2 separate regions of the Homo sapiens genome follow, and region 1 is linked to region 2. Evidence: fine-mapped expression QTL. A gene starts in region 2. The other region holds a variant in brackets. All regions are shown on one strand. Distances are between the middles of the regions.

Region 1 (2,901 bases), 27 kb before region 2:
GGGCCACCTAACTGGTTTGTCTCTGGCACGGACGCGACCAGGTGGGGGTGATGTGGGTGTGGCGGAGGGCACGGGGAGGGGGCTGGGTGTGCACAATGCGTGTTCCTGTGTCCCGGAGGCCCTAACCTAGGGAGGCATCTGTACCTGTCCAACTGCATAGAGACACACATTTGTAGGTACAGGAGTGCCCACTGTCATTTGCAATCTAGCTCAGGTTATCATCTGTGCCCTGAGACCCCTCATCCTGGCCACACACACAGGGGTACACAGGTGAACACGCTGCCAGCACCCACAGCTGCCAGAGCCCAGGAGTTCAAGACCAGCCTGGGCAACATAGCGAGATGCCCCATCTCACACAGCACACTGTCAGGCTTACACTTGTGTGCCCACTCACACTCATTCACACCCAGCCATCTCATATCCTCACACTCAGGTTCTTTCATACTCGTATACACACACTCACACACTCACACACTGCCCACACACGATCACACTCACATGCTCAAGCATTCTCACTCGAGCACACTTGCGTGCTCAAACGCTCCCACATTTGGCTGGGTGCAGTGGCTCACACCTGTAATCCCAGCACTTTGGGAGGCTGAGGCGGTTGGATCACCTGAGGTCAGGAGTTCGAGACCAACCTGGCCAACATGGTGAAACCCTGTCTCTACTAAAAATACAAAAATTAGCCGGGTGTGGTGGTGGGCGCCTGTAATCTCAGCTACTCGGGAAGCTGAGGCAGGAGACTCACTTGAACCTGGGAGGTGGAGGTTGCAGTGAGCTGAGATCTCCCCACTGCACTCCAGCCTGAGCGACAGAGCGAGACTCCATCTCAAAAAAGAAAAAAAATTAGCCGGGTGTGGCAGTGTGCGCCTGTAATCCCAGCTACTCGGGAGGCTGAGGCAGGAGAATCGCTTGAACCCGGGAGGCAGAGGTTGCAGTGAGCTGAGATCACACCACTGCACTCCAGCCTTGGTGACAGAGCAAGACTCCGTCTGGAAACGAAACAAAACAAAACACTCCCACATTCACTGTTTTCACATTTCCACACTCAAACAGGGTTACACACACATCCTGGGTTGTCCTCACACTCACACACACTTGGACTTTTTCACACGCATTGAAACACAATCACACATTTGACCATGATGACACTCACACGCCTGCCTGCCTGCCTGCCTGCCTTCTTCTTTTTCTTTCTCTCTCTCTCCCTCCCTTCCTTCCTCTCTTTCCCTCCCTCCCTCCCTCCCTTCCTTCCTTCCTATTTCCTTTCTCTTTCTTTTTCTTCCTCTCTCTCTCCCTCCCTCCCTTCCTTCCTTTCTCTCTCTCTTTCCCTTCCTTCCTTCCTCTCTTTCTCTCTTTCCCTTCCTTCCTTCCTTTCTCTCTTTCTCTCTCTCCCTCTCTCTTTCCCTCCCTCCCTCACTCCTTTCCTCCCTCCTTCCTTCCCTCTCTCTCTCTTTCTTTGATAGAATCTTGCTCTGTTGCCCAGGCTGGAGTGCAGTGGCGCAACCTCGGCTCACTGCAACCTCTGAGTCCTGGGCTCAAGTGATCCTCCTGCCTCAGCCTCCCAAGTAGCTGGGACCACAGGTGTGTGCCACCATGCCTCGCTATATTTTTGTTTTTGTTTTTGTTTTT[GTTTTTT/T]GGTAGAAACTGGGTTTCACTGTGTTGCTCAGGCGGTCTCAAACTCTTGGCCTCAAGCAATCCTCCCGCCTCAGCCTCCCAAAGCACTGGGATTCCAGGTGTGATCCACTGCACCCAGCCAGTATTTTCATACTTACACCCAAACATGATCCCATGCATACTCAGATGTTTCCAGGCTCACATATTCTAACACAATCACATCCACACACCAGAACACCACCGCATGAATCCACTAGTGTGTTCTCACACTCACATTTGAATACGTCGTGCTCACATGCTAGGGCGTTTTCACAGTCACACTCAAACATGACCACACTCACACACTTGGACGCTTCCACCTTCATTCAAAACACTCACTGGCTGGGCAAGGTGGCTCATGCCTTTGATCCCAGCACTTTGGGAGGCCAAGGCAGGAGGATTGCTTGAGGCCAGGAGTTTGAGACCAACCTGGGCAATATAGGGAGACCCTGTCTCAGAAAAGAAAAGAAGACAAGACGGGGCACGGTGGCTCACGTCTGTAATCCCAGCACTTTGGGAGGCCAAGGCAGGCAGATCATTTGAGGTCAGGAGTTTGAGACCAGTCTGACCAACATGGTGAAACCCCGTCTCTACTAAAAATACAAAAAAAATTAGCCAGTCATGGTGGCAGATGCCTGTCATCCCAGCTACTCAGGAGGCTGAAGCAGGAGAATCGCTTGAACCTGGGAGGCGGAGGTTGCAGCGAGCCGAGACTGCACCACTGCATTCCAGCCTGGACGACAGAGCAAGACTCCGTCTCAAAAATGAAAAAAGAAAAGAAAAGAAGATGAGAAGAGAAAAGACAAAAAGAGTCAAGGTCATGAAGGACAAAGACAGATGGAGGAGGAGTCTCAGATTGGAGGGGCCAAAGGAAAGGGGATGGCTAAATGTCATCTGGGATCCTGGATGGACCCTGGGACAGAGAAAGGACGTTAGCAGAAATACTGGTGAAACTCGGCCAGGCTCAGTGGCTCACGCCTATAATCCCAGCACTTTGGGAGGCTGAGGCGGGGAGTTCGCCTGAGCCTGGAAGTTCGAGACCAGCCTGGATAACATAGTAAGACCCCATCTCTACAAAAATAGAAAATAATAAATTTTTAAAAGACACCATCGGCCAGGCACAGTGGCTCACGCCTGTAATCCCAGCACTTCGAGAGGCCAAGGCGGGTGGATCACTTGAAGTCAGGAGTTCGAGACCAGCCTGGCCAACATGGCAAAACCCCATCTCTACTAAAAATACAA
Region 2 (2,901 bases):
CTTGCTCTGTCGCCCAGGCTGGAGTGAAACGGCCGATCTCGGCTCACCGTAACCTCCGCCTCCCAGGTTCAAGCGATTCTCCTGCGTCAGCCTCCTGAGTAGCTGGGATTACAGGCGCCCATCACCATGCCTGGCTAATTTTTGTATTTTTAGTAGAGACGGGGTTTCGCCATGTTGGCCAGGCTGGTCTCGAACTCCTGACGTGCCCACCTCGGCCTCCCAAAGTGCTGGGATTACAGGCGTGAGCCACCACACCCGGCCTTATTTATTTATTTATTTAGAGACAGTCTCGCTCTGTCCCTCAGGCTGGAGTGCAATGGCGTGATCTCAGCTCACTGCAACCTCCACCTCCCGGGTTCAAGCGATTCTCCTGCCTCAGCCTCCCAAGTAGCTGGGATTACAGGTATGTGCCACAACGCCCAGCTAATTTTTTATATTTTTAGTGGAGACGGGGTTTCACCATGTTGGCCAGGCTGGTCTCAAACTGCTGACCTCAAGTGATCCGCCCGCTTCGGCTTCCCAAAGTGCTGGGATTACAGGCGTGAGCCACCGCTCCCGACCCCTAATTTACATTTTTAAAAACCCTAGCAGGGGCCGGGAACCATGGCTCACGCCTGTAATCCCAATGCTTGGGAGGCCAAAGTGGGAGAATCGCTTGAGCCCAAGAGTTCAAGATCAGCCTGGGCAACCTGGCAAGACCTCGTCTCTACAAAAAATTTAAAAATTATCCAGGCCTATTGGTGCATGTCTGTAGACGCAGCTACTTGGGAGGCTGAGGTGGGAGGATAGCTTGAGCCCAGGACGAGGCTGCGGTGAGTCGTGATCGTACCGCTGCACTCCAGCCTGGGCGACAGAACGAAACCGTTTCAACAGAACAACAAAGACAAAAACCTCCAAAACACCCTAACAGTTAAATTTCCTCAGTCCAGAAGCTGATTGCAGTCCAGTTCGCAATTGGCCAGGCTCTAGTTTATATAGGACCTGAGGCTCCACCCATGTGCAGGCACCGCCCCCGTGGCGTCACGAGCGAGCAATGGCGTCATTGGAACGACATGAGCATGCGCACTTCCCCAGCACAATCAGGGAAGACACGCGTGACCCGGAAGGTCTTCCCGCCACACTCCAGAGCGGATGTGAGGGGCGCCGATGGCGGAGGGAACGGCGGAGGCTCCTCTAGAGAATGGTGGTGGTGGCGACTCGGGAGCCGGAGCTTTGGAACGAGGAGTGGCGCCCATTAAGCGTCAGTGAGTCGCCGGGGCAGGAGGGAAGCTGAAGGGCCTTTTCCGGCACCCATAGCGCGGTCCGAGCTGTGCATGCCGGGAGATTAGGCAGCGGCTGAGGGCGAGAAGCCACCGGCTCTTCATTCCGGGCCGTTCTTCCGCCTGCAGGGTGGTCAGCGGAGGTACCTGAGATCGTGCACGTTGGGGCCTGTCACATGCGCGAAGGACACCACGTGCATGCTAGGGCAGGTGGGATTTGAGGCCAGGCCCGCGCTGCATACTGGGGATTGTAGTCCCTGCATATGGACGTACGGCGCATGTGCTCTGCCAGCGGCCGTTACTGGCGGGTCTTGGGGTTGAAGCGAGTGCCGCGGGGCGTGCTGGGGCCTGCGGTGTTTGAAGGGCCGAAAGGCGTGCTGGGAAATGTGGTGGCTTAGACTCCGCTTCAAGGCATGCTGGGAATTGTAGTTTTTCGCAGCCTAACGTGCGCAGGGACGTTCTTGACTGAACCTGATAATAGTTTCGCGCAACACTTTGGACAGTGAGGACCCAGGGACAAAATAGGTCTTTTTTGAGGCCGTGAGGGGCTCCCAGGCTGGGAGCTGGCTGGTTCTTAAGTAGTGAGCTCCCCATCAGCAGAAGGATTTAAGGACGTGCAAGTGTTTCTAGCCTCCTTTCCCCAGTGTTTATTGACTATGTTCGGAGGGTTTTCCTTTCCCTTTCTGTCGGCAGATACCTCACCACCAAGGAGCAGTTTCACCAATTCCTGGAAGCCAAAGGGCAGGAGAAGACTTGCCGGGAAACCGAGGTAGGAGACCCTGCTGGCAATGAGCTGGCTGAGCCTGAGGCTAAGCGGATCCGACTGGAGGATGGACAGACGGCGGACGGGCAGACGGAGGAGGCAGCAGAGCCCGGGGAGCAGCTACAGACTCAGAAGAGGGCCCGGGGACAAAACAAGGGCCGGCCCCATGTGAAGCCCACGAACTACGACAAGAACAGGCTGTGTCCCTCCCTAATCCAGGCAAGTGCGGCCACGTGAGCATTCCTGCCGGGGCAGGCAGGAGCAGGGTGTGTTTCCTGGCAGCGGGTAATTGTTAGAAAGCTCCTGGGCCTTCAGCAACGAGCAGTGAGCTTGCTCTGATGCCATTCCGTCTTCATTCTCCTCGGGATACATTGTAGGGCTTGTCATTGTTCTCATTGTATAAATGGAGATGCAGAGGCACGGTGAGGTGCCTGACTTGCTCAGGGACACAAGAGCCAGGAGGGGTGATCTAGAGTTTGAACCCTGGCTGCTGGGCTGCCCCGGGGTCTCCCTGTCCTCCCTCACTGCTTCCCTGTTTCCTCGCAGGAGTCGGCTGCTAAGTGTTTCTTCGGTGATCGCTGCCGCTTTCTGCACGACGTGGGGCGCTACCTGGAGACCAAGCCGGCCGACCTGGGCCCCCGCTGCGTGCTCTTCGAGACCTTCGGCCGGTGCCCCTACGGCGTGACCTGCCGCTTCGCTGGGGCCCACCTGAGGCCCGAGGGACAGAACCTGGTGCAGGAGGAGTTGGCGGCCCGCGGGACCCAGCCCCCGTCCATCCGCAACGGCCTGGACAAAGCCCTGCAGCAGCAGCTGCGGAAGCGCGAGGTCCGCTTCGAGCGAGCTGAGCAGGCCCTGCGCCGGTTCAGCCAGGGCCCCACA

The links.
Region 1: its variant is fine-mapped to the expression of DUS3L in whole blood (INTERVAL, PIP above 0.99).

The regions. Positions count from the first base shown.
Region 1 is chr19:5,815,915-5,818,815 of GRCh38, reverse strand. All of the region lies in intron 1 of NRTN (neurturin), which reads right to left. Among named protein-coding and RNA genes, the nearest start is that of NRTN, 12 kb to the right of the region's middle. The variant GTTTTTT/T (reference allele first, on the strand shown) is at 1,636.
Region 2 is chr19:5,789,387-5,792,287 of GRCh38, reverse strand. DUS3L (dihydrouridine synthase 3 like) reads left to right here and starts at 1,125. Exons shown (of 13, transcript NM_020175.3): 1 at 1,125-1,244; 2 at 1,953-2,241; 3 at 2,569-2,901. The coding sequence starts at 1,147. RefSeq lists an enhancer at 943-1,402.